2 separate regions of the Homo sapiens genome follow, and region 2 is linked to region 1. The links come from fine-mapping of genetic effects on gene expression. Tissue or cell type: blood mononuclear cells. Region 1 holds a variant in brackets; the other region holds the start of a gene. All regions are shown on one strand. Distances are from middle to middle.

The links. PIP is the estimated chance that this variant, and not a neighbour inherited with it, causes the effect.
Region 2: SLITRK4 starts here. The variant in region 1 is fine-mapped to the expression of SLITRK4 in blood mononuclear cells (TOPMed, PIP 0.92).

Annotation. Positions count from the first base shown.
Region 1 is chrX:143,578,361-143,583,981 of GRCh38, forward strand. No RefSeq gene overlaps it. Among named protein-coding and RNA genes, the nearest start is that of SLITRK4, 55 kb to the right of the region's middle. The variant C/T (reference allele first, on the strand shown) is at 2,222.
Region 2 is chrX:143,633,245-143,638,865 of GRCh38, forward strand. SLITRK4 (SLIT and NTRK like family member 4) reads right to left here and starts at 2,857. Exons shown (of 2, transcript NM_001184749.3): 1 at 2,491-2,857.

The sequences.
Region 1 (5,621 bases):
GTACAAAACGTTCTTCATAGTTGTTATACTAATTTACATTACCACCTACAGTGTCCAAGAGTTCCCTTTTCTCCACATACTTGCTAGCATTTATTATTGCCTGTTTTATGGATATAAGCCATATCCAAGACATTTGGGGTGAAATGATATCTCATTGTAGTTTATATTTGCATTTCTCTGATGCTAATGTTGAGCACATTTTCATATGTCTGTTTGCCATTTGTATGACTTCTTTTGAGAAATATCTATTCAAATATTTTGTCCATCTTTTGATCAGATTATTAGATTTTTTTCTATAGTGCTGTTTAATCTCCTTATATATTCTCGTTATTAATTCCTTGTCAGAAGGGTAGTTGCCAATATTTTCTTCCATTCTGTGGGTTGTCTCTTCACTTTGTTGATTGTAACTTTTGTGCAGAAGCTTTTTAACTTGACGTGATCCCATTTGTCCATATTTGCTTTGGTCCTTCCCACTCTTCCCTCCCTTTTCCAAAGGCAGAGGAGCCACCCCTGGCCACAAGGAGTACTGCCAGACTACCACTGATTTTCCCTTAAGTCTCAAGGTCTCTTAAGTCAGCTTGTGGTGAGTGCTGTCTGTCCTGGGACTCATCCTTCAGGGCAGTGCACTCCCCTCTGTCACAGGGCAGGTCCAGAAATGTCATTCAAGAGTAAACAGTCTTGACTTGCTGCTCTACACCCCTGTGGTGATGTTGGTACTTGAAGCCAGCAAGTCTCAGAGGCTCACCAAAACCCTTGATGTAGCATAGCACCTGGATATTACTGCTGGTTATTCAGAGCCCATGCTAGCAGGACTGGATCCCTTTCTTCAAATAGGTTCTCTTCTGGCCCAGGGTATATCTATAAATATCATCTGGCTGATAGGGCCTGGAATGGGAGCCTCTTGACTCTGACTGGTGCCATATCCTGCTGTGGCTAAGCTGGTATTTCAGGTGCAAGAAACGATCCTCCCCACTCTTCTCTCTACTCTCCTCAAGAGGAAGAAAAGGGTCTTTTTTGGAGCTGTGAGCTGTGCAGCCTGGGATTAGGGGAGGGGTGATGCCAGCACATTTTGCCTGCCAAAGCTGGTGTCACAGTATGTCATGTGGCCTTCTAATCCATTATCTCTAGGCCTAGTTAAGCCCTTGAACTCACCTAAGAGTTGCAGTGCTTATGGGCTAGAATGCCTTTCAAGTTTAGTTAGAGACTAAGAGCACTTTGGCCCTGGGTGGCAAGGTTTGCAGGCACTCAAGTTTGAACCACTGGGATTGGAAATTCCCCTCTGGCTAAGGCTGATTTGAATGCTCCCTCTGTGGGCAGGCATCAGCTGAGTTTGGTCTGGTTTTTCTTTTCTGCTCTAACAGAGCAGCACTGAGTTCAATGCTTCACAATTGCTGTGTTCTCCCTCCCCCAGTGCCCAGAGATACTCTCTGTACCAGGATTCCACTGCCAGAGATTGAGGAGGGGTGGCATCAGCAATTCAAGGCTGTTTTTTCTACCTTTTTGGTGCCTCTTTCAGTGATATGAAGCTAAAACCAGGTACTGAGTGCTCACCTTATTTTTGGTTCTTATAAAGGTGTGTTTTCTGAGTAGATAGCTGTTAATCTGATGTCCTTGCTGGGGGAACTATCAGTGAAGCTTTCTATTCCACCATATTCCTCTACCTCCCTTGAATTGGCTTCTTTATGATCATATAGATTGTAAGTTGAGTCAAATTCTTATCTGATTTTAAAAACTTTTATCATGTTCATATTATATTATATTACATTTGGCAGTATTATGTTATAATATGGTGCTGTAGTGTTGTGGGAATCAGAAGACCAGAGAGACCAATGGGTGGAACAGGAGGATTTTATTTAGGTGGCTACTGGCACAGCAGATTCACATCCAAAGGCTGAGCCCTGAACAAACACAGGGCTTGACTTTTATATACACTTCTGAAAGGGAATTGGCTAGTTTTAATGCAGTGGCAGGAAACTGAGGGCACAAAACCTGTGAGGCGGGCAGGCAGGCTTACAGAAGCAGAACAAAGGCAGTTAATCAAACTGTGACAGGTTTTGTAACCTAAGCATAGCTTGTGACCTTACAGCTGCATGGAAGGGAAAACAGGAACTTACAAAACTTGAGACACTGAGTAATGGTAAGGGGGAAGAGGAGATAGTAAAGGAATTTGTTTTTCTTATCCTTGCTCCAGGGAGGGGGAGGGGTTTGTTGGGAGAGTCTC[C/T]GGAGCTCATTCCTTTGGGCTCTGGCTTTCCAGATAGTGTTATTGAGACTTTGCCAGGGCCCTGCCTATTGCTGGCCTTGGAGTGAGTCAGCCAAGTATAGGAAAACTTGTTTTTCTCTTTTTAACTTCTGCTTCAATAGCTGTCCCTCAAGATTGTTGGATTGAACTGACTTGAACGGAACTGAATTGAATTTTCAGCATGGGCTGAATCATGGAATCAGCATGGGCTACCAGGCAGTCAGAAACCTTTGCTCAGGTCCAACCATCTCATGTTACAGGTGGGAAAATGGAAACATACAGTGGAGAGTGACTTGCCCAAATTCAGACAGCCAATAAATGGTTAAGCTGAGTTTCTTGCCTCCTGGATAAGTGTTCTTTCTTCCATTATGTTCTGTTCCCCTTTTATTTCCTTGGTTCATGCTGTACTGGAGTGAGATCAATGGGTCAACAAATACAGCTAAATCTCTATAAAAAATTATGCATGTCTTTACAGCATAATTTAGCTCATAACATTTTAAGATACATTTTGACAGCTGGTAATGATTATGGTTATTGATTAGACAATGCATTTTTATGCATCTAATTTTCTACATTTTTAATTTCAAATATTCTTTTAAAAACAGAAGTAGAAATGTGCCAGATCTTATGATAAGTGTAGGCTACTTAATTTGAAGCAATTGCAGTCCCTCATTAGTAATAAATTAAGTATTGAAGAGAGCAGATCACTTTAATGTGTCAAAAAGAGCCTTGTCACTTGACATAATTTGAGAAGTCAACATGTGCATTTTATAATGATCGTCCATATCCAGTATTTCTGATCTAGCTTACTCTCAGTTTCTATTACTCATGGGACTTACCCAAGACACTTGTTGAGTTACAAACAGAGCCAAATATAAAGAACAAAACAGTATCATAACTTGAATCTAAGAATAGTTGGAATGATATTTAGAACTGATCCACATCATGGAACGAAGTGTACCACCAGAAGAAGCTGCATTTGGTTGTGACTGTTTCTGTTACTCCAACATGTCTCTTCAAACCAGACAATTAAAAAATCAATTGTTTTTGTACTGATTTTTACCAAAGCAGTTTCAGTGAAAAACAAATTTTTAAAAATCCTCAACCCTCAAAATACTAATTAAAAGTATCAGTTTAGTTGATTTTTCTTTTGAACATTTTTGACCTAAATGCTTATAAACAGTATCATTTTGTATCTTTTAGTAACTATGGGCAACTGTTGAGTGAGTTCAGTCAATGATTAAATTAGTCATAAAAAATGAGTTTTGATAACGAGAAACAAAAAAGATGGTGAATGGTGAATTTAAGATTAAACCAATATTGACTTGATATAAATACAACAAATCAAGTCTCTCACATCATAAAAGTGTTTGGCTTTCTGTGAGAAATTTACCAAATGCTTTTTTATGATATTTTTACCAAATTTAGAAAAACAGGGAGCGCCAAGCAATTATTTAGCAGAAAGGCTAATAGACATAAATATCATAACAGCATCTTGTAAATGATGAAACTATATCATCAAAAGGAAAAGACAGAAATGCAATATGAGTACAAATATTTATAGGCACAATCTGCCCATTTGACAAGTACTGACTGAGTACCTACTACTCTGAGCAAACCACCAGGACCAGTGGTACACAGGTTGGAAACCTGACTATGGCAGGAGGCACACAGTCCTGCCCTCCAGGAGCTTTCAGTCTGTAGTGGGGAGAGCAGTACAGCACTAGCTGGAATAAAAGGTGTTAAGAGAAAGGAGGGAAAACACAGAATGAGGTCAGGGAAGGGAGAGAACACAATTTCAGCAGAGGAGGTATTTGAAATTGCATAGTGAGTATCTAGAGCTGACACTCCAGTTGAAAAGACTGCCAGTCTCCTGGGCACACTACTCATTCTAATGTAGTGTGATCAGGTTGTGCCAGTGGTGTAAATGGAATAGAAGAAGATCTGGGAAGATGCTTAAAGACAGTCATATGTGAGCTGGACTTAAAAACTAATAAAATATAGTGCTAGAGAAGTAAGTAGGTGCCTAATCATTTAAGGTCTTAAACACCATTTTAAGATATTTGAATTTTGTCCTGTGAGCAATGGAGAACCATCAAAGGGTAGTTAGCAGAGGAGAGACTGGTCGTATTTGCATTTGAGAAAGAGCACCCTGGCTGGAATGTAGAAAATAGATTGGAGGGAAGGGGAACAGGCAAGAAGGCAGGAAAATTTATTGAACTAGTTTTTAAGTAGAAGATTATTATGAGAGCCTAAGAAGGTCGTGGTGAGACTGGAGAAAGTGGAATCTATTTGCCAGTAGAAGTGAAATGGAAATGATAAATCTTAGAGATATACTAGGTAGAACTGATTGGACAGGGTAAGTGACTGGATTTGAAGGTATAGGGAAAAAGGAGATAAAATTACCCACTCTGGTTTTAACTTGGCTGGCCACATAATGAGTAATAGCATTGTATTAACGTGTATAACACAGAAGGACTGCATTTCAGTGTGAGTGGTGGCAAGGGGAGGAAACCGGGAAGAAGAAAGTGAGAAACTGATCTAACTCTATGAGAGCAAGAAATACCTTATTTTTTCTTATTGCAGCTTCAGCGCCTAGCTCAACAAATACTAAAATGGTTTAACGAGAAAAATGAATTGTTTTCAAAGTGCCGTCGAAGGTATTTGAATCTATGAACAGAGCTGTAGACTGAAAAGAAAGTCCGTTTCATGCATTGACCTAGTACTTAGTGAGCATCTCCTATATGCCAGGGAGAATTCTAGGTATTGAGGATATATCAGTAAGCAAAACAGTGGCAATCCTATCTCCATAAACTTATATTCTAGTTAGGCGGGAAAGACAATAAACAAATAAACATGTAATATTTCAGTTGATGATAAATGCTACGAAGAATATAAAGCAGCATAATAGGGTTAGAAAGTGACAGGATGCTTTTAATATAAAGTCATCAGCGAAGGTCTCTCTGAGAAGGTGATATTTGAATTAAGACCTGAAAGAAAGGGAGTGGGACATGTGACTATTTGTGGGAACAATATTCCAGGTAGAGAAAATAGCAAAAATAACAATATCGTAAGGTAGTAGCATGCCTAATACCTTCAAGTTCAACGAATAACAAGGAGGTGAGTGTGACTTGAAGAAAGAGAGCAAGAGAAGGAGGTATAGAAGATGAGGTCAGAGAAACAAAGGACTGGATTAGGTAAATCTTTAAAAGCTGGTATAAAGACTTTGTTTTCTTTCTCTGAATGAGGGCGGTTCCCTTGGATGGTTTGGAACAGAGGAGTGACATAGTCTGACTTACTTTTTAACAGAATCACTTTGCTATATAGAGAGTAGTTTGTAGAAAGGCAAGAGTAGAAGCCAGTTAGCAGACTAGTTACACTA
Region 2 (5,621 bases), 55 kb after region 1:
GGAGAGAGGAAAAGAGGTACTGAAAGGGCAAGAGACCATGGAAATGTGGAGAAAGGAAGAAAAAGAACTCGGAGAAGGGAGCTACAAAGAGGGTAAAGGGAGCACTGAATGTATGCGAATAAAGCCTCACACTCCGGTGGTACCACTGAAACATGCACATTTAAACATCAAGGGAAAAACGCAAAAAAGAAAAGAAAAAGCCCACAAAGTACCAGCTGGGTACCAAGAGCCTTCTCTGTGGCTGCTGGGAGCTGTCCGTCTTCCTCTCGGTGCCCTGAAAGACCCTTGGCTCTCACGACCAGCCAGGACTGAACAAACCTAGCCCGACCAAAAACAAATCCTGCATCCACCGGAGTGCAGCGCCTGGCACTCCGCGACTGGGAGGAGAGAAGCGGCCTGAGGGGGGCAGAACACTGATGGGCTTCAGGGCGGTGGGCCGAGGTGGCTCCCCGAGAGCTCCCTCGGGAAACCCCGCTGGCCCGCCTAAGGCTCGGATGGAGGTGGAAGAGGTTCGCGGAGAGACCCGGCCATTGCCGCCCGGGTGCGCTACCTCGGGCGGGCGGCGAGGAGGCTGGAGGGGCTGCTAGCGCGTACCGCAATGTTTTGCCGCATCCCTGTTCCCGGAGCCGGCCGCTCAGCCCCCTCCGCGTCAGGGGCCCAAGCAGCAGCCTGGCGGTCCGTGTAGCGGAGGCGGGGTACCGCGCGGGATGTCGCGGGGGCCTTCAGTCCCGCCGCTCACACATTTCTCCGCGCGCTCCCGTCCCACAAGGGGCAGCTGCCGGAGTTTCAGTGGACCTCTCTAGACCCAGGCGTGCGGTGGGTGAGGAGGAAGAGAGGCCAGATCAGGCCGCCTCGAAGACGTTGGCACTAGGGAGTCACTGACCTGCTTGCCACGGGCAGAGTGACCCTGTGGTTTTGTGGCTGCGAGCGGCGGCCCAGGCTCCCCCTTGCCTGTTCTCCCTCCCTGGCCAGCTACAAAAATCCTGCTCTCACCATGCCAGAAATCAGCTCAACATTTAGGCCCCTTGCAAAGTCGCGCTGGCAGCGCTCGCCTGGCTTTGCAGAGCTTTTAGAGTTACCCACCGGCTCTTCCTCTGGTATTCCTAGTCTTGCCGAGCGCTAGCAATCTCCGACCAACCCGCGGGCCACTGCCCCGAGCCTCAGATCCACGTCTGCGGAAAGTGGCTGCGAGTGGGGTGCAAAAATAAAGCCCAACCCAGCCCAGCGGCCCGACAGCCGGAGCCACCCGAGACCTGTACAACTTGCCCCGCCGCCCTGGCCGCTTGGGGTATGGTGGGGGGGGGGGCGGGCAGCGATGCCAAGGACACCCGGATCCTTTCCGGTCCTCAGCGGCATGAGACCGCGTCGTAGGCAGGCAAGTGGGAGGTGGAGGGCAGGATTAGCCACCTCGGCCACTTTGGCCACTCAACCGGCCCCAAACCAACAGGACCCAAACTAAAAATAATAAGCTACCTGCCCCCTCGGCTCGCGTGCGCGCGCGCGAGATCTCTCTCTCTCTCTCTGTCTCTCTCTCACACACACACACGCACGCACACGCGCTACTGAGCTGAGCGGGGAAGAGGCAGCACGCGTGTCGGTGCAGCTTGTGCAGCCCCCGCTGAAAATTCACCCACCTCTAGAGCCCAGCGTCTGGTGCAGGGCCCGCGGCGCCGTGACCTGCGCTGCTGTTTCCACGATGGTATCTATGTGATTCCGGACAGAGCTCCTCCGCGCCCGCTCGCCCGTCAAACCCACGGAGCAGCCCCAGCAGGCGAGCAGGCGGGCCGGCGGGCAGGCGGGCAGCGGCGCGCGCGCGCACCCGAGCAGACACCGCGCGCGCACCCAGCGCCTAGCACACGGGCTGCACCTTTACATACACGCGCTGAATCCCCGCCCCCGCTCTCCACCACCCCCCCCCACCCCGCACACAAGCAGTCCTTCCTCCCGACACTCGACCACTTTGACCCCCTCACATTCCTGAGCTCCTACCCCCGTCCCCCATCCAGACATGCCCATTTGATTCCTCTTCTACCCACACACCCAGAAAGACAGCGCGCTTTCCTCCCGGCATCCGCCCCCTCTTTTTGCCTAAAACATTCCCTAGGGAGGAGCGACCCCTTTCCTCAGGCGTGGAGACCCCAGTCCTCTAACAAGGGCGCACTCGCCTCCATCCCCCCCACCACATACACACACACTCGAGCCCTTTTCTTCTCTTCCAGTCCCCTAATAACGAAGGAACACACACACACACACACACACACACACACACACACACACACACACACGGGGCATTCCTTTGAGAGAGCAACCAAGAAGCCAGGAAAAGCCAAAGAAACACTGGAGAGCCTGGGGGAGGGGGGCCGAGGGAGATCGATAGGGTCGTCGAGTCTACGCGGAATTGAATAATTACAGGATGGAGGGGAATGAGTCAACAACAATGACATTCAAATGCAACAATCATACTTGGATTTTGTATCACGGGTACGGTACCTTTGGCTAATTGTCACCCCGCAGAACGGAGGGCTCCTGGAATACTTCTCCGTGGCGGTCGATCCTGGAAGGAGCCTTCTTGGGAACCAATTTCCTAGGATCCAGTAGTATTCGCACTCCCCCTACCTGTCTGCGCGTAAGGGGCCAGGGGCTTTAAGGCGAAAGTGTGAGGCTTTAGCCTAAAGTGAGACTATTTAGCCGGGTTAGAAGGAGACGGGTTAATTATCCGCACCTTAGAACTCCGTGGGCCTTTGGTGCAGAATGGGTTAAGCCGGATGATCTTGGAGCTGGGGGTGGGGATAGGGGATAGGGGATAGGGGTTGAGGAAAGAGAGGCGTGGGACTGGGAGAGATGCCGCACTTGCGACCAAAAGAAAAAAAAAAAAAAAAACTACTTTGGCTACTGAGCATGCCCAGTTCCCAGCTCAAGCCCTATAAGGGAGGCATTGTGTGCATTCCACTTCTCCGGGCTTTGGTGGTGACCGGGAGGGGAGTTTGACTGGGGAAGGGGGTGGTAGTTGGGAGACATTAGGGAAAGGGGGTTGGAGAACAAGGTTTGAAGCTTTGGGACTGCTCAGGAGGGACTGTGAAGAGAGAAAGGGAAGGGACCCACGGAGTACCTTCGGGAGACGGGGAGAAGGAGAGGAAATGGACTAAGAAAAGTCACTTCAGTCGCCCCTCATTGTGTATACCAAAGAGGCTTTAGCAGCTGAATCTGAAATATCCAGTGGCTGCAAATCCAACGTGTGGATTGTCTAGGCCCCTTCTTCTACCCTTTTTGTTAGTGCTTCCACAAGAGATAAGAAATATTCTGAGGAAGGGCCAATGTTCAAACCAGTTTCATGCAAATTGATAATTTCGTTAATAAGCTTGTTAAGAAAATAAATAAACCTGGGGGAGGGGAGCAGAGAGGAGTTGGCTATCATGTATGTATTTCAGATACCTGGCTTTCCTAAACAAAAGGCATAAACATTGGATGTGCTCCCATCCCCCAACCTTGCTGTTTTTTGTAGGAGCTTGGCTAAGAAAAACAACTCTCTCTCTCTTCGTGTCTGTGGGAATAAACTAGCTTTAGGTAAGTAGAGCTAAGTTATAAATGGGAAGTATTTCCCTAGGACTCTTGGTAGCCTATTATTTGCCACATTCAGGTAATACTGCCAGGCCCATTTCTTCAGGACCAGTGTGTTGCCCAATTTACTTATTCAAATCCCAGCGGCTCTAGCCACAATAGAGCACAACCGGTATCCAGAAATGTTCTTGCTTAAAAATGAAAAAAAAAATCTTTAAGCTAAAACTAGCAACAGCTTTGAAACCAGAATTTGGCTGTCTGCCTGAACTCCTACAGTTAAACATTTACCATAATTGGTTGATGTTTAAAGGCCCCAAATCTAGGTAGAAACATCTGATGGGCAAAGGATTTATTACATTATTTGTGAATAATGGTCTACCTTCTGTATCATCTATAGTAGTCATTCATATACATGTTTCATTGTTTTTCATTTTTTGTCATTTTATGGGACTTCCGTCAGGTTATATTCACACAAATGTTCACCGGGCACAACATGTATACAGAGATGCACGTACAATATGTAAATGAATACTTAAATAGATATGCGTGTATGGGCATATTTCTTTATGACCTTGCTAAATATTGTGTCGTTCATGAAGAACTCTTTCTCTACCTTCACTCCACATTGCCTTGAAAACTGTAATCATCCTCTCTTTTACAAACAACCTAGAGACAGAAATTGGGCAGCATTGGTAAAATTTATCTTATTCAATGTGAAATCCATTATGAAATAGCATTAAGGAAACACTAAAATATTTGTCTATAACAGCGTATGTAATTGTGCAGCTCCTTTTAGCAAAGTGAATGATGTTTCCTTCATAGGTAACAGCTGCAGAATGTTGAAAAATCCCTCTACTCTTGCACACTTGGACAAAACAGATCCTGCTAATTAATAACTCACATTTGCATTTTATTGTGTAATGCAGTTTGAAAGTAGTAATGGGTATCAAAACAAGTTGGCATTTATTCTAAATGCTAACAATTCAGGAAGCTGAATATATTTTATCCAGATAGGTGAAATGTTTGTCTTTTACTACAAATGTTAACAAGAGTCAATAGAATGAGCAAAAAAAGTTTACCTGAAAATTCTAAGTAATGTGATAACTGAAAAGGCCAGATTTGGACAGTAAATATCAGATGATTTAAATGCCTATCTTTATTCAACTTTAGAAACTGTTCTGAGACTTGGCTATATTTAACTGCAATAACTGTGAAATGTTATTTTTCATATGGATATGGAGACAAATCTGAAAGCCACTGTAGCTAGATCATCGATAAATTACAATTCATAATATTCCTAAGAACTTATCTGTGATTAATATTCAACTTTTTTAAATGAATGCTTTAAAATAAAATGTTTTGCTACTTAAAAAGATAAAGTGGACACTCATAAAATAAAACAGAAGTAACAACTTCCATGTTTTATGCTTATTTTGCTTTCAAAGTAATTAACCCAATCCTTTAGTCCCACAGTCCCTTTTCCGTCCCCTAGAACTACAGGTGACATCCCAATAGAACAGTAGGAAATGACACAGAATTGCTAGCTTAACAAAGGAAGTGAATATATACATAAATAAAAGTGTTAAGAAAACTCCAGCACTATTTATGGCCATTGAAAGAAAAACAAAATTGATGTTCTTCCTAAAATGTAAGCATGCAAATATTGTGAGTTTTGCAATACTCTCACGGTCTTCCTCCAAATGTTTTACCTTATTTCATCTTGACTTTTTAGGAGTACAACCAGAATCGTAGGTCTACACTGATATACTGTGTCTCCCTCCATCAGGGAAAAAAACAACTGCACTAAGAATTTCAACAAGATCCTGTATACCCTCCGTTCCGAAGGCAGTTTGGAATTAAGTCATTAAAACACTACCAACCGAAAGTGATTATAATGCCAAGTCTTGGCCCTAGTCAGCGGTCTTTCACTTTCACTGTATTCCTCATTTATCTTGCCTTGTCTTAGGCTGCTGCTCAAAATCAAATCAGCCTTAATTTTCGTATCCAGGTATCACAGATGATTCAGTGTATTTTAATATTGAAGATTTATTTATATTCTGGCA